3 separate regions of the Homo sapiens genome follow, and regions 1 and 3 are each linked to region 2. Evidence: fine-mapped expression QTL. A gene starts in region 2. Each other region holds a variant in brackets. All regions are shown on one strand. Distances are from middle to middle.

Region 1 (10,900 bases), 150 kb after region 2:
TTCGCCCTCCTCAAGTTGGGGGCTCAGGGTAAAGGTTTCATACCAGTCACTTGGTGAGTGATAGTGCCTTTGCTGAACTGCAGTGTGTACTCCTGGACTCTGTTACTGGCTTTTGCTGTGCTGTGAAACTAAAACTGATGTCTAGGCAAGGTAGGAGGAATATAAATATTTTCCATATCTTTACCCTTTAAGGTCATCTTAGAGAAATAAGCTTGTGTTGAAAGAGAAGAATTCTTAGGTCATGAAGATAATGCTTTATGGGCATAGATATATACGGTTTTGCTTCATGAGATATGGCAAAAATGGGATCATTAGTAAAGTTGACCTTCATTTGTCACTAATTTGAGTCAAACACATTGTTCTGAATTGTCAGGAGCCAGGATGAATTTTTCAAGACTTCCCAAGCAGTGAGATTGAAGGAAGCTTGTAATTATTGAAAGGCTGTTGTCTCAGGCCCCTGGTTAGGCACTTTTCTTATCTAATCCTCAAAATCACCTGAGAAGGAGGTATTCTTAAACTAGTTATTACAGGTAGGGAAACTGAGCCTCAAAGTAGCTGCAGTGACTTGGCAGAGAACATTCACAGAGCTGGTCAGAGCCATTGCCAGGGTTCAAGCCCACATCATCCCACTCCAGTACCCATGTTTACTCATGTTACTCATGAGTTACCCATGTTTACCCATGTTACTCCAGTACTCACATGATACTGGCCCCCACCTTTAATGCTGGTATCATGTAATCTGCATGTGCACACTCTATGTTGAAGGTGACTGCCAGCCCATGTAGTGTTGTCATTTCCAGGAAGGAGAAAATTATGTTGAACTGAAGTGTCAACATCTTTGCCAAGCTACTCTCTGGAGCAAGGTTATTGTGGCCAGTTTACATGAGTCACATTTCCCTTAACCTGTTTACTTCTCAGTGTCTTTCTCTTATGGGCTCACGTAGGAAAAGGTGGCACATGACGGTAAAAAGGTAATATTGCATAATGATCTTCAAAGTGAGAATTGTGTTTGAATCCAAAATCTTTACCACTTAATTAGCTTTGCAGTCAGTTTATTCTTCTGTAAAAGGGGACATTTATACATTTGTTGGAAGACTGAGAGGATCAGATAACATATAAAGCACTGAATTCAGTTACTGACAGGTCCTAGACCCTCAGTAAATGGTAGTTAGCATCATGATTATTCAGTGACGTTTTGTTCGGGAGGAGAGAGTCCTGTCTTTTTTTCTTTGTGGTACACTTTCTTTATCACACTTCATGAGAATTTTTGGTAGATCCTCTGACCCTTGGGGCACTTGTTTCTACAATTCAGAATAGTATTTTTGAAGAGTGTATGGAAACTTATTGTTTGCCTGAGTTCTTGCCAATCTGTACTTTAATTGGGGGCTTTATAAGGTTAAAAATGTTGCAGAAGAATCTTTGTTCCAGCCTTTGTTGGCTGTGTGAAATCAAAGAAGAGCTGACCTTGTACAGTTTCAATTTTTCTAAAAGTATATATACTTGTACAGCTGCAGGCTTTTAAAAATTGTACTCTGTCATTTTTCCAATTAGTGTTAAGGTCACAAAAATTCAATTCTAAAATGGTCCAAGTATTTTCTTTCCCCTCTTTTATCAGATACGATTCATTAGTTCAGTCCCAAGCCAGGGAGCTCTCCCTTCAACGGCAGCAGATTAAGGATGGCCATGGCATCTGTGTCATCTCCCGTCAACACATGAACACCATGATTAAGGCATTTGAGGAGTTGCTGCAGGCCAGTGATGTGGATTACTGTGTGGCCGAGGGTTTCCAGGAACAGCTGAATCAATGTGCTGAGCTGCTGGAGAAATTGGAAAAGCTATTTCTCAACGGTAGGTAGGGTGAGGTACGCGAGTCTTAAGACATCAGTAATTGACCCAGGACTTCTTGGAGGGGCACAGGAGGAGCTAACTCCTTGGCCTTAGTTATCTTTCACCCCTCTGCCTTGATGAGGTGACAGCAGAACCACACTGGCTGCTGCTTCCTCCCAGTGACCACTTCCACATGGCTTGTGGTCGGCACTGTTACAAACCAGGAGTCCAGTTTAGACGCCTCAGGGGCCGGGCTGGTGAGGTACATGAGTGAAGCCAGCCAGAAGGCACTGCCTCTCACTCAGCAGTGGTCACGTAGTTGCCAGTTCTTGCATCTTACAAATTTTCCAGAAAAGATGGGATTTTTTATTTATTTATTTTTTTTTGTGAAAACTCATGTGTTTTAAATGTTGGCAAGCAAAAAATCCAGTCAACCAAGCAAAATTTTTATCAGTTAAAAAGTATATCGAAGAGTTAAGGATGGCCAGAGGAAGGGTGAAAGAAACCTTTGCTATGTGCTAGGTAAAATTTTTAAAATAATTTTTTTTTGAGACTACAGCAAAGAACTCCCATTTACTGTGCACCCAGCTTCATCAGTTGTTAGCATTTGCCACATTTGTTTTATCTTTCCCTGTCTGTACACACACGCGCTCTATTATTATCTTTCTGAGCTCTATGAGAGTGGATTGATGCTATGATGTTCCTTTCTCCCTAGATAATTCAGGGTGTGGTTCCTCAGACCAAGGAAATTCTCGTGCATAACCATGGTATTGTTATCACAATCAGAAAAGGTGTTGTCTAATATACTATTATCTAATATACAGCCTATATTTGAATTTTTATAATTAATTCAATAATGTCTTTTATGACAGTTTATTCTGGATCCTGATCCTGGTCCGGGATCCAGTCTCCACGTTACATTTAGTTGTCATGTGTCTCTCGTCTCCTTTAATCCGGAGTAGTTCCTCACCCTTTCTTCTTTTCGTGATGTGAACATACTTCAATAGTTCAGGCTAGCCCCTCGCTTTGGGATTATCTGTTCTTTCCGCAAGACTCAATTCATGATTAGATTAAATTGGTTAGATTAGATTGGCTATGCAGTTTTGGCAGGAATGCTGCATAAGAGATTATTTTGTTCTTATGGTGTTTTCTTAAGGAGGCACACAATATTAATCCCGTTTTTGGTGATATTAACTTTGATCACTTCCTTAAGGTAATGTCTGTCAGTTTTCTCCAGTGTAAATTATATTAACCTGTGTAATGAATAATTTGTAGAAGATACTTTGTTATTCTGTAAGTATTCTCTTCCTCTTCAAACTTCTACCATGAGTTTTACCATATATTGATGATTCTTGTCTGAGTCAAATGTTCCTATGACAGTTTTTTTCTAACACTAACATTTTTTAATCACATTCCTTCTTCATTTATATTAGGTGGCATGTACTAGAAGAATGCATTCT[C/A]TATTAATTCCTTTTATTACTATATTTCTTGTTTGTTTATGATCAGTGTGGGCTTAAAGATTCTTATTTTATTCAATGGACTATTATCCATTCTGACATTCATATTATATTGTCCCAGATTTGGTAAGTGGCAGTTTCTTTTGACATGTCTCCATCTTTTTGGGAGTACGTCCTTACTTTCTGGGACAAAATAGATTTTCCATGCTCATCCTGTACTGCTTCTGCCCTGAATGAGCCATTTCTCCAAGAGCCTTGATTCCTTTTAGTGAGGAATGATATTTAACCACCAAGATTTGGTGCTAGGTGTGTTCATTGCTACGAGGGTATCATTGTGTCTAGGCCCTTTAGCAGGCGTGTGTGTGTGTGTGTGTGTGTGTGTGTGTGTAAATGTGTAATTTATTTTTTAAAAAAATCATTACTTCACAATGGTGCCTTTAATTCCAGTCCAGACTCACTGGGTTCTTTCCTGTTTTTCCCGCTTCCACATTTTTACTTCCCTTCTCCAACACTAAGAACCCTGGCTCTGACAACATCACCATATCTGCTGATTTACTCAGTTCTGTAATATATACACATAGTTCCAGAATTACTCCACCCTTTCCACTGTGAAAAACAAACCCACTGGAAGAGTTTAAGATTTGTTTATTAAAGTAGTTCTCTTTGTTTTTAGGCTAAAAATACATTATAGTATGTTCTTGAATTTAAAAGTTGTTTGGTTTCATTCTTTGTACAGCTGTTGTTGGGTTAGTCATTTGAAACACAATTAGATTCATTTGTTTTTATTTGTATTCAATTTTAGAGTTTTCTACCCTATTTTTATTGATTTAATTTTTTGAATATGTATAACATTAGCATGATTCCAGAGTCAAAACTGTATCCTTTTAAATTGCTGTGTGAAGTCATTATTTTTCTCCTTTTCCCTTATCTCCAGTAGTATTGCTTTCCATTCCCCTTTCTCTCTTAAACCCATTGGGACTGGACTCTGAGTTATCTCAACCCCTCCACTGAAACAGTTTGCCTGACACTAACAACTTCCACTTTGCCAAATCCAAGGATCAGTTTTCAGTCTTCATCTTGCTCAGACTGCAGCAGTATTTGACGTGTTGATCCCTCCCTCCTTGGCTGACTTGGCTTCCAGACGATGCCACTGAGAGTTCAGTTCTCCTCTCCCTCCCTGGCTGCCTCTGTGCAGCCCCGCCTTCTGCACGTCTTCCATCCCTGACCAGTCCTCACCACCAATTATTGCTGCCACCGCTTCAGCTCGCCTCTCTTCTCTCACCTGGATGCTGCAGGCCTCTCCTGTTTGGCCTCTGGGCTTCCATCCTTGTCTCACTGTAGTGCATTTTCCACACAATAATCAGTGATCTTTTAAAAATGTAAGTCAGATCATGTCCCATCTCTGCCCCCAAATCAAAGCCTTTCCTTTTCATTCAGTGTAAAAGTCCAGATAAGGGCCTGCAAAGCCCTGTACCATCGCCCTGGCTGCACTCTCTCCTTACTTCTGCCGCCCCACCCTCTCCTGCTTCCCCTCCCCAGCTACTGACCCTGCAGTTTTTCTAGCATGCCCAGGCCAGCTCCTCCTTCAGGGGCTTTGCACTTTCTCTTCTGTCTGGTGTCCCTGATCCCTTCAGGCCTTGTCTCAAATGTCATCATATTAACGAGGTGCTCTTTGACAGCTCTTTATGAAATAGCAAGGCACCCCTGCCTATCACTGACATTCCCTTTTTCCCTTACCCTGTGTTATTTTCCTCGGTTCTACCCACAACCATCTCGCATGTTATGTGTTTACTACCCGTAACCATCTTAACCATCTTGCATGTTATATGTTTTTTATTCTGCCTTCCCTGTAGAAAGTAAGCCCTACAAGGGTGCATGGATCTTGTCTGTTGTGTTTGTTGCTGTAGTGCTAGGATATAGATAACGTTTGATGTATGGTGGACACGTAACACATATTTTGAGAGAATGAATAAATGAGTGAGTGAGTCAGTGAATCTAGTGTTACAGCTGTGGAGAGTGTGGCCCAGTGAGAGTAAGCAACTCATCTGTGACCATTTGTGGAGTGAATGGCAGAGCTGGGATTTTAAATCAGGTCTCTGGACAAAAAACTTTTCCTACTAGAGCTACTTGTATTATAGTTGGTATCATATAGGTTATTTGATTTAAACTTCACAATGACCTTGGAAGCACAATGTATTAGTTCAGTTTTATAGATGATGAACTGAGGCATAGAGAAATAACCTTACATATTTAAATAAATGGGCCTAGTAGTGAAGAATGCAGTCATTGGAGCTGGGCTGGCCAGATTAGAGCTCTGGTTTCCCACTCGTAAGCTGTGTACCTTGGGAAATTTACTTAATTCCTTGCCTCAGTTTCTTCTTTCACCTGTAAACTTAGCATTCTAATACCTAATTGGTGGAGCCTTTGTAAGAATTAAATTATGGATGTGAAGCCTTGCTTGGCTCAGTGCTGGGTGCATGGTTCTTACGTACTGAGTGCTTATTAGTATTTGTACTTGCTGTGAGTTGGGGCTTAATCCTCAGAACAGCCTGTTTTTCAGGTGAGGAACTTAGACTTAACAAATAAGAGTTTGTTGTTCAAAGTCACAACTGACTTGGCGGAACCAGGATTTAACTCTGTTCCTCTTGTCTTCATATGTACAAAATAGATGGTTTATGATGGCCCACATAGTTCATTTAATTCCAGGATAGAACATGGGATAGTTTACCCATCTGGGCCTAGTGAATGTTTTCCCCCAGCTTTTGCGAAGGGCCCAGCAGCTTAGACCTGCTGTAGACTGGTTTTGCTAATACCGGTTCCCAGGACTTTTGAGGACCAGGGTATATAGGAGTACCTGACTTTTCCCAGCTTTATGAAAACCTACTTCCTTGTAGCTAAGGGTATTCTAAATAAGCTAGTTTTCATTTTATTAGTGGAGAACTATCTGGGTCCTCATGATAAAGCCGTATCTTCCAGGCCCAAGTCATTTTCTGTCGGCCTCTTCTTGAAGGCTCTCACTCTAGGCCCTAGGAAGTGGAGAGCTGAGAGTGGGTGCCTCTGGCACCAGCTGCCCTCCTTCCTTCATCTAGCCACTCCCCTTGGTTTATTTTTTAGTTATTTACCTTGACACACCCAAGGAGAGCCTACTTATTCTTTGTGGGTTCTGCAGGCAGACGAAGCATTTTAGACTTAGCAGATAACACAAACATAGAACTTGATTTTCTCCTACAAAAAGCATAAAAGTCCCAGAAACCTCACCACAGCTCCTTTTCTTGGGGACTAAAATGTAACACAGAGGTAGCTCTTTCTTGGATTCATATAAGGGGTCTGGCTCTTGAATTATGAAACAAGCTTATCATAAAACAGTTTTATATTCGAGGCAGTCATATAGCATGAGTTCTTAAAAATTTAAATATAGCCTTTAAAAAAATTAATACAAAGCAATACATGTTTACTGTGGAATAAAAGATAAGCAAATACTCCTATAGTTGCATCACACAACAAAGTGTGAATACCCTGGAGTATATATGCCCAGACCTTTTTTATTCATATGTGTATTTTTTATGGAAATGGGACTGTTTGCATCCTCTCCCTTTGTTCAGTTATAGATAATAAGTATACATTGTAAGTTTTAGTGGCTGCAGGGCATTCTTTTGTATAAATGTACCATAATTTATTTAATAATTCCCCATTAGATGAACATTCAGATTGTTCCCATTTTGGGGCTATTATAAAGAACACTGTACTGGAATCTTTGTGCATATCCTTGCTATTTCTTTAATAATGTTTGGTTGGTAGGCTCCAAGAAGTAGGATGGTAGCGTTGTTTCTTAATGCTTATAAGGGGACTCTCCCTTGGCTCCATTAAACTAGGGATTCCACTAGGGATCTGGAAACCTGCAATGTACATTTTTCTGGGGTGAGGGTCTATAACTTAGATTCCCAAGAGGGCTGGGATCAAAATAGATCAGGAACTGGTGTTGCAGCCAGAGTTTCCACTGTATCCTTGTTCTTGGTGCCTCCCAAGAGCAGTTGTATGAATAAGGCAGGTGGTATTTTGTCTGTAGGTATTTTTGAGTAAGCTGTGTTTGACACTGGGAAAGGTACAAAGAAGACAGTTTGATCAGTGAGCTCACCACATGAACAAAGATAGCTCCTGGAATCCTTTGCCTTAGTTCTCTGCTGAAAGAAGTGAACCTGAAACATTGGTTTCTTCTCAAGGCCTTCCACAGTCTGGAGGGGGCCTTTGCCAGGGGCCTTTGCCAGCCCACCACCCTCTGATGATGATGATGATATGAAGAAGTTGAAGGAGAAACAATGAGGAAGTGAGAAAGACTGATCTTTATTGGGTGCTTGCAATATGCCAGGCATTGTTCTCAGCCTAAGAGGAAGTATTATTTATTATCCTCATTTATTAACAAGTGAGGAACGGAGAGGTTCATTCACTTGGTCTAAGTCAGACAGGAAGTGACAGAGTCTGAATTTGAGTCCATGTAGTTCACTTTCACAGTCTACCCTCCTAACCACCATGATATCGTGCTTTTCACACTCCTATCAAATTGGATTAACTGGTCAAACATTTCTTCTTCTTCTTATTATTATACTTTAAGTTTTAGGGTACATGTGCGCAATGTGCAGGTTAGTTACATATGTATACATGTGCCATGCTGGTGTGCTGCACCCATTAACTCGTCATTTAGCATTAGGTGTATCTCCTAATGCTATCCCTCCCCCTTCCCCTCACCCCACAACAGTCCCCAGAGTGTGATGTTCCCTTTCCTGTGTCCACGTGTTCTCATTGTTCAATTCCCATCTATGAGTGAGAACATGCGGTGTTTGGTTTTTTGTCCTTGTGATACTTTACTGAGAATGATGATTTCCAATTTCATCCATGTCCCTACAAAGGACATGAACTCATCATTTTTTATGGCTGCCTAGTATTCCATGGTGTATATGTGCCACATTTTCTTACTCCAGTCTATCATTGTTGGACATTTGGGTTGGTTCCAAGTCTTTGCTATTGTGAATAGTGCCGCAGTAAACATATGTGTGCATGTGTCTTTATAGCAGCATGATTTATAGTCCTTTGGGTATATACCCAGTAATGGGATGGCTGGGTCAAATGGTATTTCTAGTTCTAGATCCCTGAGGAATCGCCACACTGACTTCCACAATGGTTGAACTAGTTTACAGTCCCACCAACAGTGTAAAAGTGTTCCTATTTCTCCACATCCTCTCTAGCACCTGTTGTTTCCTGACTTTTTAATGATTGCCATTGTAACTGGTGTGAGATGGTATCTCATTGTGGTTTTGATTTGCATTTCTCTGATGGCCAGTGATGATGAGCATTTTTTCATGTGTCTTTTGGCTGCATAAATGTCTTCTTTTGAGAAGTGTCTGTTCATATCCTTCGCCCACTTTTTGATGGGGTTGTTTGTTTTTTTCTTGTAAATTTGTTTGAGTTCATTGTAGATTCTGGATATTAGCCCTTTGTCAGATGAGTAGGTTGCAAAAATTTTCTCCCATTTTGTAGGTTGCCTGTTCACTCTGATGGTAGTTTCTTTAGCTGTGCAGAAGCTCTTGAGTTTAATTAGATCCCATTTGTCAATTTTGGCTTTTGTTGCCATTGCTTTTGGTGTTTTAGACATGAAGTCCTTGCCCATGCCTATGTCCTGAATAGTAATGCCTAGGTTTTCTTCTAGGGTTTTTATGGTTTTAGGTCTAACATTTAAGTCTTTAATCCATCTTGAATTAATTTTTGTATAAGGTGTAAGGAAGGGATCCAGTTTCAGCTTTCTACATATGGCTAGCCAGTTTTGCCAACACCATTTATTAAATAGGGAATCCTTTCCCCATTGCTTGTTTTTCTCAGGTTTGTCAAAGATCAGATAGTTGTAGATATGCGGCATTATTTCTGAGGGCTCTGTTCTGTTCCCATTGATCTGTATCTCTCTTTTGGTGCCAGTACCATGCTGTTTTGGTTACTGTAGCCTTGTAGTATAGTTTGAAGTCAGGTAGTGTGATGCCTCCAGCTTTGTTCTTTTGGCTTAGGATTGACTTGGCGATGCGGGCTCTTTTTTGGTTCCATATGAACTTTAAAATCATTTTTTCCAGTTCTGTGAAGAAAGTCATTGGTAGCTTGATGGGGATGGCATTGAATCTATAAATTACCTTGAGCAGTATGGCCATTTTCACAATATTGATTCTTCCTACCCATGAGCATGGAATGTTCTTCCATTTGTTTGTATCCTCTTTTATTTCATTGAGCAGTGGTTTGTAGTTCTCCTTGAAGAGGTCCTTCACGTCCCTTGTAAGTTGAATTCCTAAGTATTTTATTCTCTTTGAAGCAGTTGTGAATGGGAGTTCACTCATGATTTGGCTCTCTGTTTGTCTGTTATTGGTGTATAAGAATGCTTGTGATTTTTGTACATCGATTTTGTATCCTGAGACTTTGCTGAAGTTGCTTATCAGCTTAAGGAAATTTTGGGCTGAGACAATGGGGTTTTCTAGATATACAATCATGTCATCTGCAAACAGGGACAATTTGACTTCCTCTTTTCCTAATTGAATACCCTTTATTTCCTTCTCCTGCCTAATTGCCCTGGCCAGAACTTCCAACACTATGTTGAATAGGAGTGGTGAGAGAGGGCATCCCTGTCTTGTGCCAGTTTTCAAAGGGAATGCTTCCAGTTTTTGCCCATTCAGTATGATATTGGCTGTGGGTTTGTCATAGATAGCTCTTATTATTTTGAGATAACGTTCGATCAATACCTAATTTATTAAGAGTTTTTAGCATGAAGGGTTGTTGAATTTTGTCAAAGGCCTTTTCTGCATCTATTGAGATAATCATGTGGTTTTTGTCTTTGGTTCTGTTTATATGCTGGATTACATTTATTGATTTGCGTATATTGAACCAGCTTTGCATCCCAGGGATGAAGCCCACTTGATCGTGGTGGATAAGCTTTTTGATGTGCTGCTGGATTCGGTTTGCCAGTATTTTATTGAGGATTTTTGCATCAATGTTCATCAAGGATTTTGGTCTAAAATTCTCTTTTTTGGCTGTGTCTCTGCCCGGCTTTGGTATCAGGATGATGCTGGCCTCATAAAATGAGTTAGGGAGGATTCCCTCTTTTTCTATTGATTGGAATAGTTTCAGAAGGAATGGTACCAGTTCCTCCTTGTACCTCTGGTAGAATTTGGCTGTGAATCCGTCTGGTCCTGGACTCTTTTTGGTTGGTAAGCTATTGATTATTGCCACAATTTCAGATCCTGTTATTGGTCTATTCAGAGATTCAGCTTCTTCCTAGTTTAGTCTGGGGATAGTGTATGTGTCGAGGAATTTATCCATTTCTTCTAGATTTTCTAGTTTATTTGCGTAGAGGTGTTTGTAGTATTCTCTGATGGTAGTTTGTATTTCTTTGGGATCGGTGGTGATATCCCCTTTATCATTCTTTATTGCATCTATTTGATTCTTCTCTCTTTTTTTCTTTATTAGTCTTGCTAGCGGTCTATCAATTTTGTTGATCCTTTCACAAAACCAGCTCCTGGATTCATTAATTTTTTGAAGGGTTTTTTTGGTCTCTATTTCCTTCAGTTCTTCTCTGATTTTAGTTATTT
Region 2 (10,900 bases):
AAGAGTGAAATTCTGTCTCAAAAAATAAAATGAAATGAAAATAAAATATTGACATTGCCTCTCCTGGCCTCAAGGAGTTCACACTGTGGCAGCCAAGTTAACAATTACAGAGCTAAATGTCACAATGATGATAAGCTCAGGGTATGCTGGGAGTCCAGAGGTGGGACATCTACCCAAACTGGGTCCCAAAACTTTCTCTTAAACTGTTGTTCAGAGGACCCTAGGACTCACAGAGAAGGGGAAGGAAGCATATTTTAGACTCTAAGAGTCACTGGCATGTATAGTTCTTTTGTGTGAATTAGAAAAAAGGCATCCCTGCTTTGGGATAAACTCACAGCTTGTCCAGCACAGCACGGACTCAATTTCAGCCTCCACTCCTCCTTTGGGTGGATGTGCTTGTGTAGGGCACAGCCTGTGCAGTGTACTTGGTGGCATGTCACACACACAGGAGGACACATGCAAGGAAAAGGGGACTGTCATTTATCCCTTTAAGGAAGGAGGCACTGCAGCTGCCACAAGTGTTGTGTTCATCCTTCTCTAGTTCCTGCTCTGTGCTCTCAATGTGAATTCACTGCATTTAAGGGAGATGCAAAGTTTACCGTCCCCTCCTGCAAGTCACAAGACATTAAGTACTTCTTTTAATCTGCAAAATGTCCAGACAGTTGATTAATTCAATTACCCTTCTCTGCTTAGAGCTATTGCTGCTTTACATATTCAATGTGCAGCTGGAGAGGGTGCTTGAAAGCACTCTCTGGCATCCTAGGATAATTTTTCCAGCAGCTTTTAGATCTCTGTTAGCCAGACCCTGGATTTAAGTGGGTGGGGATGTGGCCATCGTACTGAGGATGATCAATTTAGGTAGGAGATCTTGCCGTGGGACATATCTCTGGCTCCTGCAAGTTTCAAAAAGCTCAGGAACCACCTTTTGTGAATCAGGAAATGGAGGTCCAAGCTCCTCTCTGTCACTAGCTTGCTGTGTGACTTTGGGAAAATCGGTTCATGTCTCTGAGTCTCAATTTCCTTATCAGTAGAAGAATGATAACAAACTTGTCTTAGAGCTGTTGTGAGGTAGAATCAAGGGATGAAGAATGTGACATGGGCTTTTTAAATAGTTGCATCAAGTAGGGATTTTATTTGATCTCTGTTGGCCTTCAAACATGAGGAGCTAGTGCACATAATAGTATGTACAGGTTTTTATCCTGCTTTTGCAGGGCATAGGTCTTACTTGTAAAACAGCCTTCCCCAACTGCTCAATCAGAATGACTCAATCCCTTCTGTGATCCTAGAATCTCACTGTTCTTTTTCTTTTTCTTTTCTTTTTTTTTTTTTTTTTGAGATGGAGTCCTGCTCTGTCACGAGGCTGGAGTGCAGTGGCACGATCTCTGCTCACTGCAACCTCCACCTCCCAGGTTCAAGCGATTCCCCTACCTCAGCCTCCTGAGTAGCTGGGACTACAGGTGCGTGTCACCACACCCGGCTAATTTTTTTTGTATTTTAGTAGAGACGGGGTTTCTCCACGTTGGCCAGGATGGTCTCGATCTCCTGACCTTGTGATCCACCTGCCTCGGCCTCCCAAAGTGCTGGGATTACAGGCGTGAGCCACCGTGCCCAGCCCTGTTATCTTTCTTATACCAACAAAGTATTTAAAATGTTTTGCTTTGTTTCATAATTATGTATGTGCATTTTCACCAGCTTCTTGAGGACAGGTATTCAGTGAAAGGCACTACGGCCTAGTGGTTAAGAACATGGGCTTTTGGATGAATTCTGGGTTCAAATCCTGTCTTCACAACTGAGCTACTTGGATGGTGTCGGGGCAAAACTTTCCTTTAACCTGTCTGGTTCAGTACCTGAGGGTTCTGTGTATTAAATGGACAAAAGACAGATTAACAGGAGAAAAGGCATATTAATTTTTATTAATAGTTATGTGCACAAGAGTTCATAGAAAAGAAGTGAAACTCAAATAAGTGGTTAGGCTCAAGGGCTTTTATCCCATTATAGCAAAAGAAGGGAGTGTTGAGCTTCAAGGCTGATAAATCATGGGGAAGTGATTAGGGAATATATGGGGGAAACTAATGGTAGACAGGGAGGAGGCACATGTTCACAAAGGGGAATTTATGTCCTGCTTCAGGGTAGAAAAGGAGAAGGCAGAAAATTCTTTCTGCATCTGTTGATTCTCAATTGTCTTCAGCTCAAAATAATCCTTATGCAAAAGGGGCATATGTTGGGATGGCATATTTTGATCCCCTTCAATGGCCAGGCAACTCTTTCTTCTCTTTGTACTTCAGTTTTGTCAACCATAAAGTTGGAGCATAATCAGTTCTTGTTTCATAAGGTTATTGTGAGGATTGAATGCAAAGTATATAACACAGTACCTGGCACATAGAAAGAGCTTAATATATGGTAGCTAATTTTAGTTATTCATGGAACATCACAGCTGAAGGGGCCTCAATGTTGTAGTGTAATGCACTCAGCATACAGATAAGAAAATAGGCCCAGAGAGTTGAACTGGGAGATTGGTATTAACCTTATATTATGTTGATGTGTGTTACCATCCCTAGTCCAATAATCTATATTCTATTCCTTTGATATTTGGTATTTCTCATTCCACTTTCCATCTTGAGAAAAAGTCAGGACTTGGAGTTAATTTGACAAACTGGCATTGAGCATCTACTATGTGCACAGCCTGGGGCTACATGTTGGGCCCAGAAGGCATCACTGACTTGATCACCCTGCTCTTCAGAGAAGGCAGTGGGTACTAATTGAGAACTGGTCCTAATAAGGACTGCTGGTGTTGAGGGTTGGTTGGTAAGAGGTCTTGGGAGCAAGGGGGCAGATGTGTCTGCCAGAAATACTGCCAACTGTGGGACCAGACAGGCATGGGTTTGAATCTCAGCACGGCCATGGTTTAGAAGGGCAGCTTGGGCCAGGCGCAGTGGCTCATGCCTGTAATCCCAGCACTTTGGGAGGCCGAGGTGGGCAGATCACGAGGTCAAGAGATTGAGACCATCCTGGCCAACATGGTGAAACCCTGTCTCTACTAAAATTACAAAAATTAGCTGGGTGTGGTTGTGTGCGCCTGTAGTCCCAGCTACTTGGGAGGCTGAGGCAGGAGAATTGCTTGAACCCGGGAGGCGGAGGTTGCAGTGCCACTGGACCCCAGCCTGGGTGACAGAGTGAGACTGTGTCTCAAAAACAAAAACAAAAACAAAAACAAAGCGTGTCATTGCCATGAAAGACAGAACTGTCAGAGACTGGAGGAGAGTAAGGAGATGTAACAAGTAAATGCAGTGTGGAATATTGGATTGGATCCTGGACCAGCAAAAGGGAATTAATGGGAAAAGATTAAATTTAAATAAGATCTGTAATAAGTCATATTGTATCAATGTAATTTCTTATTTTTGACAATTGTGCTATGGTTGTGGAAGATGTTAATATTTTAGAAATTCTTTGTACTATTTTTGCAACTTTTTTCTAAGTTTGAAATTATTTCTAAATAAAAAACTAAGAAAGAAGGAAAGAAAAAAAAGTGTGACCTTTGGGAAATCTCTTCCCCTCTCTGAGCCTTTAGTTTCTTCTTCTGTAGAGTAGGGCGATCAACCCAATTCACTTCACAGCATCATGAGGATAAAACGGAAGAGTGCAAAGTAGTAGCATTGCGTATATATTGATCCTATAAAAAGTTATTTTTGCTGTTAGTAATGGCAGTGCAAATGTCTTGATCTGTTAAAGCTTCAGGAGGGTTCTACCCAAATGAAAAACATCTGACTGCAAGCTACTTCCTCCCAGCCATTTGATATGACCTTGTCTGAGGAAATAATAATGCCAGCTTTGTGGTTGGGTGGCTGTTGTCAAGGAGATAGCCCCAGATAGCCCAAACAGCTGGTGGTAGTGACGTCACCTCTAGGTTTGGCAGAAAGATCATGGTGAGACAGAGACAGGACAAAGGCCTCTGTCTCTGAACATGAAACCACTACAGTAGCAGGAAAACCAACTTCCAAATAGCCTTTCCTTTGTGCAATTGATTCTATTTTCAGTTTCTAGGTTCACTAAAGGGTTTAGCACGCAACCCAGGGACATGGTCATGCTGAACAAGGCAATGGACTAATCATAATGAGAGATCCTAGGCTGGGCGTGATGGCTCATGTCTATAACCCCAGTACTTTCTGACGCTGAGGTGGGAGGATCATTTGAGCCCAAGAGTTCGAGACCAGCCTGGGCAACATACCAAGACCCCATCTCTACTAAAAATAAACAAATTAGTCCGGCATGGTGGCACCTGCTTGTGGTCCCAGCTACTCGGGAGGCTGAGGTGGGAGGATCACCTGAGCCTGGAAGGTGGAGGCTGCAGTGAGCTATGATCACTCTTATTGTACTCCAGCCTGGTTGACAAAGCAAGACCCTGTGTCCAAAAAAAAAATTAAATAAGTTAAAAAAACAACCCAACTCCTCACAGGTTCTTTCATCTTCAATAATGTCTAAGGTATTCAATTAGATGAGGCAACCATGTGAACTCAGCATTGTCCTCCCCATTTTACACATGAAAATCGAAGTGTAGCAAGGGGAAGGAACCCCAGGTCACAGGATAAATGGGAGGAGTTTCCAGAGTCAGAATCCAGGTGTCCAGACTTCCAGTTCTGTAAACTGCCCACACTAAGATTCACCTCTTAGCCACTTTGAAGCAGTTTCCCAAGGAGTAGAGTCTGGTGAACACAACCCTTAAATACTGTCGTCTGGATGTAGACCTTGCCTCTTAGTACTAAATTCTAAAGCAAAAGAGAAACCCAAATGGGGATGACAGGTTGCCTGAAACAATCAAGGTGTTGGAATTCAAAGGGCCCTGGTCTCAATTCCAGCTCTGGCACTTACCAGCTGTAGGACCTTCAGTAAGTAGTTTTTACCTTTTGCAGCCTCAGTCTTCTCAATTGTAAGTCAGATAGTAGCGCCTCCTGCAGAAGGTTGTTGGGAGGGTTAAATGAGGTGGTGCATGTAATATGCCTGGAACAAGTGACGTATAAGACATGCTCAAAATGTATAAGTTCTCTTCCTTGTTTATATTCTCAAGAGTTTTCATTGGCTGGAGATGCAAAGTTAGTTCTTTCATGTGGGAAGTGTTAGCCTCCCTCCCCAGGAGAGAGTTGGTTGTATGTTAGTAGCTTTGAAATAAACACAGAAGCCAGGCACAGTGGCTCACACCTGTAATCCCAGCACTTTGGGAGGCCGAGGTGGGTGGATCACCTGAGGTCAGGAGTTCGAGGCCAGCCTGGCCAACATGGTGAAACCCCGTCTCTACTAAAAATACGAAAATTAGCTGGGCGTGGTGGCAGGTGCCTGTAATCCCAGCTACTTGGGAGGCTGAGGTGGGAGAATCGCTTGAATCCAGGAGGTTGCAGTGAGCTGAGATCGCGTCACTGTATTCCAGCCTGGGCAACAGAGCAAGACTCCATCTTAAAAAAAAAAAAAAAAAGAAATGTAGAAATCACCTCCAGAGCTGTAACATCCTGAGAGACCCTGAGAGGTTCAGCCCTCTCATTTAACAGATGTAGAAGCTGAGGTCCACAGAGAAGTGATTGGCCAGGCCGGGTGGGGTGGCTCATGCCTGTAATCCCAGCACTTTGGGAGGCTGAGGTGGGTGGATCACCTGAGGTCAGGAGTTCGAGACCAACCTGACCAAGATGGACAAACCCTGCCTCTACTAAAAATACAAAACTAGCCGGACGTGGCAGTGCATGCCTATAATTCCAGCCACTTGGGAGGCTGAGGCAGGAGAATCGCTTGAACCCGGGAGGCAGAGGTTGTGGTGAACCGAGATCGTGCCATTGCACTCCAGCCTGGGCAACAAGAGCAAAACTCCATCTCAAAAAAAAAAAAAAAGGTGATCTGCCAAAGATCACAGAGTTGGTGGCAGAGCCAGGGTGGGAATCCTGACACCCCAACTTCCCTGCTTTTGGACACACCTATCTCATGGGTTGAACTTACTGGCAAGGAGTATTGGTTCCTGGGCTTCAAGGACTGCCCCGTTCCTGAGGCAGTGCACCAGGTGTGCTAAGCTTTCCCTCTTTTTCATGCTTTTATCATTGCTAATTGTGGGTGTGGTTGAAGATCTAGAGAAAGAAGGGGGACAGGCAAATAATCGCGGGCTTTGGAAGCCTAACTAAAGCTGAGAGAGAGACAGAGAGAGAGAGAGAAAGAGAGAGAATGAATATGAATCTGGGATACACAGAATTACTATTGACAGAGGTCCTAAAAGTATCTCTGATTATTCTCACAAAAACCTTGCAGGATAGGTATTGGCCTTATTTCCAGACTGATTGATTGAATCACTCATTCATTTAACATACATTTTCAAATAGCTGCTGAGTGGCAGACATAGTGCTAGGTGTTGAGGATATAGCAGTGAACAATTCAGAATATAGTCCCTGCCCCATGCAGCTTCCAGTCTAGTGCAAGGAAAGACATTTAAAAAATGATTTTACACACACACACACACACACAAATTGCAAAATATGGTAAGTGCCACAAAGGAATAATTTGCATTGCTAGGAATACAAGAAGTGGCTTGATTTAGATTAAATGACTAGGGAAGGCTTCTTTTGAAAAGTATCAATAATTGGTTAATTACTTAACTGAAGAATGAGGGCCTGGTGCAGTGGCTCAGGCCTATAACCCCAGCACTTTGGGAGGCCAAGGTGGGAGGATTGCTTGAGGCCAGGAGTTCAAGACCAGCCTGGGCAACATAGTGAGACCCTGTCTCTATTTAAAAAAAAAAAAAAAAGAATGAGGAAACAGGGTGAAAGGGGAATTGTTCAAGATTACTGGGAAAGTCACTATCTATCCACTCACCAACCATTTCAAGTTATTTTCATCGGGCTCTCTCACAAGGGCCTGCAGAGGAAGGAGCAACACTGAGTTGAGGAGGGGAAGGTTAATTTCATTGCTTAAGCTCTGCCAAGATTATCTAAGTGTTTGGTGATTGCTATGTGCTTTAAGAAAGGCAGCCAAGGGGCCGGTGCTGTGGCTCACGCCTGTAATCCCAGCAGTTTGGAAGGCCGGGGTGGGCAGATCACGAGGTCAGGAGATTGAGACCATCCTGGCCAACATGGTGAAACCCCGTCTCTACTAAACATACAAAAATTACCCGGGTGTGGTGGCGCAAGGCCGAGGCAGAAGAATCGCTTAAACCCAGAAGGTGAAGGTTGCAGTGAGCTGAGATCGGGCCACTGCACTCCAGCCTGGCGACAGAGGCACCATTTCAAAAAAAAAAAAAAAGAAAGGCAGCCAGGGTTATGCAGAGAGCCCTCATCTAGTTGGCAGGAGCTGCAGACCCCCACTCCAGTTGAAAGACATTGTCAATACTTAATTACTTTGGGAGAGTCCTTTCCTCTTGCTGGCCCTCAGTTTTCTGACCACAGGTGCCTTTGAGTCCTAATGGTAATAAAAGACCAATAGGTGAGAGACTGGAGTGGGAGTGCTGTTGACCACTGGCTCATGGGAATGAGTTATTTGCTTCAAACTAAGTCTGCAAATTACTGTTTGCCTTGAGATTCCGCACGTAGTATTTTTCCAAAGCAAGGCAGCACTCAGTTATCTGAGTTTCAACTTAAGGTCAAATCCCAAAGTTTTGGGGTCATTATTCTAGAAAAGCAAACACGAGGTTAGGAACTTTGAGGATTCCTGAGTGGCTGTATTCATTTCCATCTCCCGCGTAAATTAACGGACTAGGGCCCGCTTTGGCCCTCAACAAAGATGGCACCCGCCCTCGCCTCTCCCTAAGTGCCCTCACAAAAAATGGCAGCCGGCCTTTTTTTGTCTCTTATTTTTGCTTGGCTTAAGCACGGATGCTTTGCCCTTAGTTAAGATGGCACCTATCCCCGCTTCCCTGCCCGTCCTCTGGCGCCAGCCGGTCGGCTTCACTGCGTGCGCCTCCGTGACCCCGCCTCGTTTCCGTAGGAAGAAGCGCCGGGAAAGATGGCGGCGTCTGTGGTTTGAATTCCAGCGGCGCCGCCAGAGTCTGAACAAGAGCTGGGGTGGAGGGGGCGGGGACCTGGGGAGCCCGGCGGGTCGCTATCGCGGGGGGTACTAGTGGCGCCGCCGCCACAGACACCAACGCTGTCGCCACCTCTGTAGCCATGATGGACTTGGTGTTGGAAGAGGACGTCACCGTCCCTGGGACGCTCAGCGGCTGCAGGTGCGGCCGGGGCATTGGTGGTCGTGGTAACCGGGCCGGGGTTCCAGCTGGTGGGATTTCGTTCTAACGCGGCCTTGGGGTTTGCTCTTGAGGGTGTCTGGCCAGGGGCAGTGTGTGGGGTGGGTTCCTTCGGAGAGGGTCTCTGGGGGGCCCACCACCTGACACTCTGGAGGGCTGGGAGCCGCGACCTGCACCACAATTGCCAGTAGCATTGCGCCATGTACTTTGTAGAGCGTGTGAAGAACAGGTAAGGAGTTTTCTGAAAGAGTAGGACGAGGGTGGGGCCACTTGGAGTATCCCGTTAGTGGGGATTGGTGGAGAACAGGGACCTTGAGGGCACCTGATGGTTCCTTCTGGTTTGAGAGTTTGTTTTCATTATGGAGAGAGTGTAGCCGGTATGCCCAGACTTTGCTTTTTGGGTCACATAGTGGCCACCCAGGAGGCAATGGAGTGCAATGATTAAGAACCTTGGCTAGAGTTGGACAAAACTGGATTCAAATCCAGCCCTGTAAACTGACTAGCTGTGTGACCTTGGTAAAGTGATTTCACCGGCTTTCCCATCTGTAAAATGGGCTAGTAATATCCACCCAACAGAGTTGGGGTGAGGATTAAAAGAGGTGATGCCTGTCGAGCCATTTGCTTGGCAGGTGTAGTGCCTGCCACATAATCAGTGCTTAAAAAATGATCTTGTGTTGCCATTAGTGTCATTATTACTACTGTCATCAAAGGTGATATGAATCAGGGAATAATGGCCAAGAGTGGCCTCCCATGGACCTGCCCCAAGAGACTGTGGGAGTCCCCATTGCTGGTGGAGCTGGGGTCTGGTAGGAAGGCCTAACAGAGCGCAACTCTGCTCCACGGCTGGCCCCTGTGGTTGTCCTAGACTCCTGGTTGGAGAGTGAGTAGAGGGAAGAGGAGGAGAGCCCTGACGGAGAACCTGCACTGTTTATCCAGCTCTACTATGGACAAGCTGCTGCTTTTAGTCAACAGATCCTAATTGAAAGGGTGACCATGTTATTTATTGTGCTAACTGGGACACTTAAGAGTGAAAAGAGCCAGGTGCGGTGGCTCACCTGTGTAATCCTAGCCCTTGGGGAGGCCGAGGTGGGCCGATTTCTTGAGCTCAGGAGTGTGAGATCAGCCTGGGCAACATGGTGAAATCCTATCTCTACAAAAACTACAAAGATTAGCCAGGCGTGGTGGCATGCACTTGTAGTCCCAGCCGCTCGGGAGGCTGAGGCAGGAGGATTGCATGAGCCCGGAAGGTTGATGCTGCAGTGAGCTGTGTTCATGCCACTGCACTGTAGCCTGGGTGACAAAGTGAGACTCTATCTTTAAAAAAAAAAAAAAGGAAAGTGAAAATAATTAATATTTATGCCCGGGCAGCAGACATAAAGAGGGCCTATCTTGGGTAAACCTGGACAAATGGTTTTTCTGTTTATTGAGAACCTTCATGTATGAGGCACAGACTAAGATGCTTTGCAGTTCCTGTCTAATTGGGTCCTGTGATATTTCATCATGCCCTTTTCTATCTATTTTACATCCACTGCCCCAATATATTGGGAGTATGGCTTCTCTCTTGTATTGTCCTTTGCACCTCTAATAGTTTTTTATACTACAATTTGAAAACTATTTTTTATTTATTTATTTTTTTGAGACGGAGTCTTGCTTTGTGACCAGGCTGGAGTGCAGTGGCGCGATCTCGGCTCACTTCAACCTCCGCCTCCCGGGTTCAAGCAATTCTCCTGCCTGAGCCTCCGGAGTAGCTGGGATTACAGGAGTGCACCACCGTGCGTGGCTAATTTTTGTATTTTAGTAGAGACGGGATTTCACCATGTTGGCCAGGATGGTCTCCATCTCCTGATCTCATGATCTGCTCTCCTTGGCCTCCCAAAGTTCTGGGATTACAGGCGTGAGCCACCGCGCCCGGCGTGAGAACTATTTTTTAAATATAAATCTGCTCTTCACAGTCTGCTGCTTTATACTTTTAATGCTGCTTATTGCTGTTATCATAACTTCCATTATTATTCTCTCAGATAGCCATTCTTATTTCAGTGCTTTTTGGCCAGACACTTGGGTTTTGGGGTCCCAGGCCTAGCTGGGTTTTAATCCCAGTTCTGCTACTTAACAACCCCTTGATCTGGGGCAAGTCACTCATCATCTGTGAGCCTCAGTGTTTATCATCTGTAAAAGGGGTTGGTATAAAGCCTAGGGTTGGCATAAGGATTAAAATGAATCTTAAAAAGTTTAGCTCAGTGTCTGACCCAGAGTAACTACTCAACAGATCAGCAAATATTCTCCTTTCCCTCATCTCCCTGCCTTTGCAGGACGTAGATACTGCATACATTCCATCTTAACCATTTTAAAGCATGGTTCAGTTGTATTAAATATATTTGTATTATTGCTCAACGGTCACCACTATCTATCTTCGTAACTCTCCATCTTGCAAAACAGAAACTGTGTCCCTGTTAAAACAGTAACTCCCTATTCCCCCCTTCTCCCAGCCTCTGACAATCACCATTCTACTTTCTGTCTCTATGATTTTTTTTTTTTTTTTTTGAGACAGGGTCTCGCTTTGTTGCCCAGGCTGGAGTGCAGTGGAGTGATCTTGGCTCACTGCAACCTCCGCCTCCAGAGTTCAAGCAATTCTCATGGTTCAGCCACTTAGTGGCCGGGACTACAGGCATGCCCCACTACGCCTGGCTAATTTTTGTA
Region 3 (9,628 bases), 180 kb after region 2:
GTGCTTTCCAAATTATAACGTGTTGCACAGGTCATCTGTACAGCATCTATTGGTTTTGCCTCCTTACAGTGTTGCAAATACATCACCCCCCAGATCCTATTGTGGGTTACTCTCATCTCTAGCTTAGGTTAGTGTGGCAGCCTCCAGACTTACTCTTTCAGTACAAAATACAGACCTCAGCTTGACATTGCCTTGCCCAAAGCCCTTGAGTGGGCCCCTCAGTCCTCTTGGTTCTGGCCTTGCATTCTACTTTGTCCTTCCCTGCACCCGGGCCTTGGGTCTATGAACTGCTTATTTCTCCCTGAGCGATGATTCCACTCTTTGTCCCACTGTCTGCCTCTCACCTGCCCATTGTGCTGCCTGGCATTTCTTTCCCTCCTTCTTACCATAGGTCAGTCACAATCAGTCTTAAAACATAAGGTTTTAAAACGGGTATTAGCCTTTGGGAAGCCAAGTTGGGGGTAGTGCCCCTCACCTGAGCCCCAACAGCCTGTGTTTCCCTCCCTTGTCCTTGATCACACTAAAATAAAATTGCTTATTTACTTTTCTGCTGAGAGTTTTTCTAGGGAATGGACTGGGCCTGGTCACTCTGTCTCCCTGGTGTCCCACAAAGGTGGGCTTGGCAGGACAGAGGCCCAGTGAAGATTTGAAGGAATGCTGTGTGTGTATGGATAAGTGAATGTGAGGGGCTTGACTGTATTCTCTTTCAGTTCTCTCTTGAATGCTGACAACAGTGAAACTAACAGTTCTCGTGTTTTGCATTTTGTAGATGGTGACAAATATCCCATGGAAAGTGATAATTCATTTGATCTGTTTGATTCCTCCCAGGCAGTGACACCAAAATCAGGTACAAAGCTGAAGTCCAGGTAACTGTGGGAGCATTGGATGTGACAGTAAGACTTTTTAACTTGCAGAAAAGGGGGGTCCCTGGTCCCAACTCAGGAGGGTATTTGGTAAGGATTTGGGATTTCAAGTTCTCAGCATCCCCAGCTGGTGATCTTCTCCTTCAAGCCAGTTAATCCACTCCTAGGTGTTACCAAGGTTAGAACATCATTGGGTCCCTCTTGCCTTAGATTAAAATTGTGACCACCTTTGTGAGGCTTTCAAGGCCCTCCAGGATCCAGCTCCAGTGGGTCCGTCCAGCCTTATCCCTTAACCTGGTGTAGCCACACAGGGGTCACCATCCTGCAGACAGGCCCACACTTTCCTCTCACTGTGACTTTTAGACCCCCTTTGTCCCACTCTTTGCCGGTAGAAGTCCCGTTTCCTCAAGACTCATCATGAATACACATTTCTCTGTGACATGCCTTTGCTGCTGTCCTTGGTCAGAATGACTCATCATTCGTGTAATTCTTGCTACTTGCTCAATCCAGTTCAAATGCTGCTCCTTCTCAGAAGCCTTCCCTGTTCTCTCCCTCCCTGCACAGATAATTGTTTTTTCTGGCTCTGGCCCTTCATCACTCTGCTGTTGCACCTTCTGCAGTGTCTGTGTTCTGATCAGACTGTGGGCTACTGGAATGCAGGCACCAGCTTGAGTCATCCTTGTGAATCTGGGGTCTTCTGCCGAGTGGGTGGTTGATAAGTGTTGGTTGAGTTGACTTGAGCCTCTCCTACAAGATGACTCATAAGCCCAGTGTGGGGTAATATACAGAGGTCCAGGAGCGTGCCTCTTTTCCCCTCTGGGCTTGTGTTGGGTGGCATTTGGGCACGAGGGCCTCTTCTAGCCCTCCTAGCTAGCTTCAACATCATAAGCGTCTTGAACGCAGAGTGTTACCTGAAACAGATTTTACATCCTACTTCTCATTTTACAGTTTCAGAGACTCCTCCACTCTCTGGGAATGACACGGACTCCCTCTCCTGCGACAGTGGCAGTTCGGCAACTAGCACTCCGTGTGTGTCCCGCCTGGTCACTGGCCACCACCTGTGGGCCAGCAAGAATGGCCGCCATGTCCTGGGCCTGATTGAGGACTATGAGGCCCTGCTCAAACAGATCAGCCAGGGACAGAGGCTCCTTGCTGAAATGGACATTCAAACCCAAGAGGCTCCCAGCTCCACAAGTCAAGAGCTGGGAACAAAGGTAACCTGACCACAGAGCTGGGGGGCACAAGCTGCTCCCTGGGAGTGTCGGTGGAAGGGGGAGGGGAGTCAAATGGCGCAGTTGTCCTCATTAGGACCCTGAGAAGAGGGACCAGGAAGTGTGGCCTCAGAGAGCTCAGAGGTCAGGTCCAGTGTGGGGAACTATTGGTGGTGGCTGTGTTTGGTGGGGTTTGTGCCTTGTGTTCCTGCAACTGCTCCATGGGCTCTGCTGTCTTGTTCCCATGACGGCCTCTGTACATCTGGTCTCTCATCCATTCTTCTCTCCATCTGCACCCTGGTGTGTCTGTCCATTCATCTGCCCATCCACCTGGCTGTCGCCCATTATGAAGTGGAATTACTAGTTCAAAGGTTGTGAACTTTTTAGGGCTCTTGATGATAACTGTTGCTCCATTACTTTGCAAAACAATTCTATCTCTGTTCATGAACGTTTGTCTCACTACATTTTTGTTTTTGTTGAGGTTTTGTTGTTGTTGTGTTTTTTTTATTTTGAGACAGGATCTAGCTCTGTCACCCAGGCTGGAGTGCAGTGGCGCGATCATGGCTCACTGTAGCTTCGACCCCACCTCCTAGGCTCAAGCAATCCTCCTGCCTCAGCCTCCCAAGTAGCTGTGACCACAGGCGTGTGCCATCACACCTGGCTTTTAAAAAAAATTTTTTTTAGAGACAGGGTCTCACTCTGTTGCCCAGGCTGGCCTCGAACTCCTGGGCTCAAATGATCCTCCCACCTTGGCCTCCTAAAGTGTTGGGATTACAGGCGTCAGCTATCATGCCTGGCAGTATATATATAAAATTTTTTTTTTTTGAGATGGAGTCTCATTCTGTTGCTCAGGCTGGAGTTCAGTGGTGCGATCTTGGCTCACTGCAGCCTCCTCCTCTTGGGCTCAAGTGATTCTCCTCCCTCAGCCTCTTTAGTAGCTGGGATTACAGGCGCCTGCCACCATGCCCGGCTGATTTTTGTATTTTTAGTAGAGACGGGGTTTCACCATGCTGGGCAGGCTGGTCTTGAACTCCTGACTTCAGGTGATCCAACTGCCTCGGCCTCCCAAAGTGCTGGGATAAAGGCGTGAGCCACTGCACCCAGCCCAGATATTTTCATTTATAATGATTTTTTTGTTACTTTGATATCTAAAAAGGATGTGTCTTTTTTCTCTCTTTTTTTTTTTTTTTTTTTTTT[TG/G]AGACAGGGTCTGGCCATGTTGTCCAGGCTGGGGTACATGGCATGATTATGGCACACTGCAGCCTTGACCTCCTGGACTTAAGCAATCCTCCCATCCCAGCTTCCTGAGTAGCCAGGACTACAGGTGTGCACTGCCACACCTAGCTAATTTTTTATTTTTTTGTAGAGATGGGGGTCTCACTATGTTGCCTAGGGTGGTCTCGAATTTCTGGGCTTGTATTTCCCCTTTTCTGAGTCACATACATAATTTTCTTGTGCCCTTGATACCGCCCAATTTGAGTTTGCTCTGCCAGCAGTACAAGACCCTGATATCATATTCACTACAGCAGGGCCATTTAACAGGGACCAGTAAAGGCAAACCATTTATTGCTTGCTGTTGGTGTCATTTTCTCTGGGCGAGTCTCTGTGGGTCGCCAAACAGTAAGAATGGCCCTCCCACAGACCCTTTACTTGGAGTAGTAACTGTAGTTAATGCTGGTGGTTATTAACCATGGTGGTTATTAATCATGGTTATTGATTGGGCTAAGATCACCACTGAAATTCTCTCATAATCTACAATTCACCAGTCTTTAAGAACAATAAATTGGTGTTATGTGGTACCAGGCTTTCGCTCAGCGTGTGAAACAGAAGCCCTACAGTCTGGAGATTTATACTGCATGTTAAGGCTTGCTTGTCTAAAATCTTTTTCAAGACTGCACGTAACAGCCTTCATATCCCCCGTGTAGGGTCCACACCCAGCACCACTGAGCAAGTTTGTGAGCAGTGTGAGCACGGCCAAGCTGACCCTGGAAGAGGCCTACAGGCGGCTGAAGCTTCTCTGGAGAGTCTCACTCCCCGAGGATGGCCAGTGCCCCCTTCACTGTGAGCAGGTAGGTGGTGACACATGTTTCAGAGGCTCAAGGATGCCACTGGGGCCTGTGTCTCAGTTTCCTCCATGCCAAGCAGGGGCCCACAGCAGATGTGCCCACCATTTGGGGTATGTATTAGGGAGGAGATGGCACCGTTTGCCATGGCTTCACTGTGTTCTTACTTGATCCGTCCCACACTCCTGTAGCCATGACCCGTCTGAGCGTGTCTTTGTTGAGTAGAATCCCGTCCGCATTCTACACATGAGGGAACCAGGACTCAGGGAGCTGAGGCACTTAGTCAAGGTTAGAACTTGTTTGAAAGGATAAATATTGGAACCCAATGTTTATTCTTTTATTTTATAGGCTCTAAGTCCTAATTTGTCCTCATGGACTAGCTCATTCTTTTCTACTCATCATCTCTTTTATTTTAGGTGCCTTTTTCTGGACCTTCTGATTCCTATCGACAGCTTTCATCATCATATTTGAGTGGACCTTGTTCAAAATCTGTTTTAAGTACTTAGGAATGACAGGCTCCAAACCAGGAGTCAGGCAGAGTAGAAGCTGTCCTCTGATTTCTGTGTGTGGGATGCATGTGGTGTCATGACAAGGTGAACGCCCACTCTGGCTAATCAGAGAAACCTCCCTGGAGGAAGGGACCTGCAGGTTAAGGAAGAGTTAGAACTCTCTGCTTGGTGGTGTGATAGATATTTCACCCTTTGTTTATCTAACCTATCTGTTCTTGCCAAAGGCCAGTAGGAAGGCAGAAGGGAAATTTACATTTTTTGTCATTATCTCATTTAGTTAACCCCCTTTTGACAGCTCTCAGGTCTCTCAAACATGACCATGAAGTAGCAGGTGGGGCAGCTCTCTCTGCTCTGAAGGTTCTAATGAGCCTGTTCTAAGATTTCACTTTTGGGATCCTGGGGACAAAGTTTGGATACACTAAGCTCAGGGAAGTTGATAACTATTCATTCCATAGAAAAATCTTTTTTTGGCCCACGTTTAGCTGGTGGCAGTATCAGGTGGGAGACAGAGTATCAGGGAGGAAGGCTGAGACTCACTGGGGTCCAGCCCCACATTGGTCTTTCCCTTCTTCTAATCCACCAGGTCCTGTTCCATCTTAGGCTTAGGTGACACAGATGGCCTGACTGCCTGGAGTGTCCCATGTCCTGCTTCTGGCTGGCTCCTTCTCACCTTTCAAGTCTTAGCTTAAATATTACCCCAGAGTCAGAGAGGGCTCCCTGATTCCTCCATCATAGCATCCTCTTCTGTTTCATCATAGCCTTTCAACAAGTTATAATTGTATATTTGTTTAATGCCTGTCTTCCTCTATTTTCCTTCAGAGGATGGTGTCTGTTTTATTTATATTTTTTGAATGAACCAGTGATTTTTTTTCTATACACCCAAAGTAGTGCCTGCCTCATATGATTTTAACATAAACATGTCTGAACTGAACAGTTGACCCTTAATGCAATGTTTTTATCCTTAGCACATTGTAGTAACTGTTACATAGACAGAAATACAGCTCATACACTTACATATAAAATATATATACACACAAAAAAAGTTATAGCCACATTGATTCTTCCCTACTTGCAAATCATTCCAGGAGTGGTTGGTGCTCCTGAGTACCCCTTTCCTTCCAAAGGTTTCTTGAGTAATTGATTATGCTCACTCTGATGTCATGGAATTGTGCCAGAAAAAGGACCTTTGAGATGCTCCGATGTGGTTGCTGGGGTACATACCCCCTGTGTAGTGTTAAATTGCCTCTAGCCACTTTTCTGTCACTGCTGTGTTTCATACAGTGCCTTTGCTTGGTGTGAAATGTGTGTAATGCTGATTTCCATTTCCAAGTTTTCACCAACAACCCAGGGGTTTTTGAACTATCTGGTTTTCTCTTGAGTGTTATTAATTGCCTTTTACATTTAGTATACCATCCCATGTAGTCTGGACTGCTCTGGAAAGTGTGTATCATGTGCACCAGTTGTGTGGAGGGGTACAAATGTACACACATACTTGTTTATAATAATTTTTTTAAATGGAGGATAAACAATAACAAACCAGGCTACATATAGTAATGGAAGGGGAGAGATTGGAGTAACAGATAGAAGGTAGATTTCTCTGAATAGACCTTGTTTTGTAGATTTGACTTAGCAAGTATATAAATGCATTACATGATTATAAAAAATCAAAATGAGAAAACAATTCCTAAAAATTCTTGGCAAGATGAAACAAACCTTACTGTATATGGCAATGTAGGCATAACAACACAAAAAGGAAGCATTTCAGTGACTAAAGCATAGTAATTTGACCACACATTTCTAGTAGAAGTATTCTAAGGGCAAGAAAAAAATTTAAACTCTTGTTAATGGTTATATTTTTAGTAGTAATATTGATATTCATATTCTGAATTATTATATTTCTATTATAAGATAAAGCAAATACTTTTATTGGGAACTGATTTTTTACTGTAAGGAAAAAGAGATAAGAAATCAAAGAAATAACCCTGTAATCCTAAATTTGAATAGCACATATCAGAATGAACTTGTGATGTATTATCATCCATTAAAAGAATTTTATGAACTTTGTCAACATACAAGGCTTTAGAAACAATGTCTGTTCTAGCACCAGTGAGTGCCCTTGATGCCCAAATTATGGTTTCTAGATACCTTTGCCCGCTAAAGGGAACTAGGGTTCCCTTGGAGAAATGGGTTGTTGCTAGGTCTGGGGCAGGAGATGTACAGTATGAGCCTAGAACGTATTTCATCCTAGTAAGAAAGGATCCAGCGTGGGGAAAGAGGGAGAGAACCCTATGGATTTACAGTGGTTCCCATAAGTGTGGGCCCTGGACCTGCAGCATCTGCATCACCTGGAAACTTGTCAAAAATTCACCTTCTCAGGCCTCACACCAAACCTGCTGAATCAGGAACTCTGAGAGTGCACCCCAGCAGTCTGTTTTTGTAGCCCTCTAGGTAGGTTTGAGAACCACTGGATTTAAAGAAACTCAAGAGATAATCAAATGCAAAACATGGATCTTATTTGCATCCTGAATTGAACCAATTGTTTAGAAAAGAAAATTATGAAGCAATCAGGGAAGTGTGCTCACTGACTGGATGTGGTGATACTAAGGAATTACTGCCTTTTTTTTTAAGGTGTCATAATGATACTGTGTTGGGCTTTTTTTTTTTTCTTTTTTCTTTTTTTTTTTTTTTTTTTTTAAGAATGTTTTTATGGCCGGGATGGTGGCTCATGCCTGTAATCCCAGCACTTTCAGAGGCCAAGGTGGGAGGATCACCTGAGGCCAGAAGTTTGAGAGCAGCCTGAGCAACATAGTAAGATGCTGTCTTTATTTAAAAAAAAAAAATCTTCTAGAGAGATCTAGTAAAATATTTTATAGATGATACAATTGGATTCTAAGGTTGGTTTCAGAATCATCTTGGGGAGAAGATGGGCAGGAATGTAGTAGAGGTAAGTATGGCCATGAATTGATCATTGCTGAAGCTGGATGGGCACTTGGGCGTTCATTATCCAGTTCTTTCTGCTTTCGTAAATGTTTGAGATTTTTTTCACCATAAAAAGAAAACAAGCAAAAATTCCTGTCCCCGAAGTCAGGCAGAACACTGACGAGGAAGCCTGAGGCCTCCTGGGAGGGAGTGGCTTCAGCACTGCAGCTCTGTGGCCCTCAGGAAGGGTTCTTCTGGTGACCTCCTGCGGACACTGGGCATGCTGCTTACACCCAGCATCTCATTTGATCCCTTGCGGAAATCTTGAGGGAGTTAGCTGTGATTCTTCCCTTTTTCCAGAGGTAGGAATGGAAACTCCAAGAGATTAAGTGACTTGCTTCAGCGTCATATAGCTGGGGAGTGGTGGAGCTGTACTTTGAGCCCCTGCTGTTGCTACCATGGAATATTCATCCTATAAAATGAAGATTTGAATCCAGGGGAACAACAGACATGTAAACAATTAAAATTCCCTGTTGTAAGTACTGGATAGAATATATACAGGATGTTAGGAGAGCACTAGTGAAAATTAATCCACCATGAGTGGGTAAATGGTGTCACAGCACCTACTCTGCGCCAGACACTGGTGGTTAGAGGGAGGAAATGAGTGTGTGGTCAGTACAGGAAGCAAACAAGTAAAGGACCAGTCACTCCAGTGTGCCATGGGCGGTGATGGGGAGACACTGAGCCCCGGGGCACCCAGAGGAGCAGTAGCCATCCTAAAAGAAGTGCCAGGTCAACTTCCTGGAAGAGGTGAAACCTGAGCTGACTTTAGAACAAGGAATGGGTCAGCCAGGCCAAGTTGGAAATGATCATTCCCACTGTCTTCCATTATCTCATTTGAGTCTCACTCTACTGCAATGTGATAGCTGGATCAGGGATGATTATTCCGATTTTACAGATGTGGGACTAAGGCGTTGACTGTAGAGAGACTTTGTCCTGGAATGTGTGGCCTCTGGAGCCATGACCAGAACCTAAGTCTTTGTGAGCTCTTAGCCCCAAGGAAAAGAATCAAAGCAAACCTAATGTTTAAAATTAGGATCTGTTTGGGAAGAACTGTCAAAGTCCTTGTACCTGACATGACTGGTTAATCTTAAAAGTAGGTTAAGTCAGGGAATCAAAAATGATATGTACCTTAAACATTTTAGTTTAACTTAAAACAGATAAATGTACATTCATTTGCCATTCTTTTGATGTAGGGCCAGGGCCTTTTCTTTTGAATATGGGTCTGCTGATTGGAGTTTCACATCTTCTTTCTTTCATAAACTGCATCCATAATGTATGTCTGTCACTTCCAATTTCTGTTTCTTTAAGATGAAGAGAAAACTTAGACACTTGCAAAGCAATTTGAATATAGAATTCTTCTAGACTGTGTTCCTCCCACATCTTTTATAGTTGTCTCACCCACACCTAATTTGCCAGAAATGTGTTTTTTAGTGACTTGCTTTTATCAAGTCTTTCCTGAAGCATATGTTAGTTTTCATACAACCAGTTCTCTCTTTTAATACACATATTTCATGGGCTTACTTAATATTTAATTAAATTATGCAATTTGATTACAAGTACAGCTACCATAAACAAGTTTGGGAACAAACTAAAGTGACTCTTCGTGAGCTGACAACTCACCAGCTCTCCTGTTGGAAGCAGAAGTGTTTCGGCGCAGCAGAGAGCGGCCTGTGCCACGGTGCTTTTCTGACAGAAAGGGAGTGTCCTTCCCCCTGGGAGCTGGTTTGGTGGAGACTGGCTCAGAGGGCTCCGCCGTGCATGTATGTCACCTCAGAGCACTGGGGACTCTGGTTTTGCCACCCATCCAGAGTTTACTCTGGAAAACCAGAAGAGTTTCTTCTAATGGAGCATACTTTCCTAGTAATACTTTTATATGATCTTTTGAAGATTTAAACATTGAAAAGTTTTTAAAATCAGCATTATAGTTTTTGTAAAAGAAAAAGATCACGCAATTTGAAATCATAGCTCATGGAGAGAATTGCTGTTAACATTTTGATGACAT

Direction of the effects. Positions count from the first base shown, and alleles are read on the strand shown. Sizes are in standard deviations (SD) of each study's normalised expression. Not every link is listed here.
With allele TG in place of G in region 3, the expression in skeletal muscle of the gene that starts at base 7,938 in region 2 is lower (large effect, 1.0 SD a copy in FUSION).

What was found. PIP is the estimated chance that this variant, and not a neighbour inherited with it, causes the effect.
Region 1: its variant is the best candidate, but not a certain one, in a credible set for the expression of CDK5RAP2 in blood mononuclear cells (TOPMed, PIP 0.73).
Region 3: its variant is the best candidate, but not a certain one, in a credible set for the expression of CDK5RAP2 in skeletal muscle (FUSION, PIP 0.58).

What each region holds. Positions count from the first base shown.
Region 1 is chr9:120,428,243-120,439,142 of GRCh38, reverse strand. CDK5RAP2 (CDK5 regulatory subunit associated protein 2) reads left to right here. Exons shown (of 38, transcript NM_018249.6): 25 at 1,616-1,848. Among named protein-coding and RNA genes, the nearest start is that of CDK5RAP2, 150 kb to the left of the region's middle. The variant C/A (reference allele first, on the strand shown) is at 3,288.
Region 2 is chr9:120,577,205-120,588,104 of GRCh38, reverse strand. CDK5RAP2 (CDK5 regulatory subunit associated protein 2) reads left to right here and starts at 7,938. Exons shown (of 38, transcript NM_018249.6): 1 at 7,938-8,185. The coding sequence starts at 8,127. RefSeq lists enhancers at 7,721-7,850, 7,704-8,266.
Region 3 is chr9:120,395,255-120,404,882 of GRCh38, reverse strand. It overlaps CDK5RAP2 (CDK5 regulatory subunit associated protein 2), which reads left to right. Exons shown (of 38, transcript NM_018249.6): 33 at 770-847; 34 at 1,812-2,077; 35 at 3,998-4,141. Among named protein-coding and RNA genes, the nearest start is that of MIR147A, 160 kb to the right of the region's middle. RefSeq lists an enhancer at 1,513-2,481. The variant TG/G (reference allele first, on the strand shown) is at 3,272.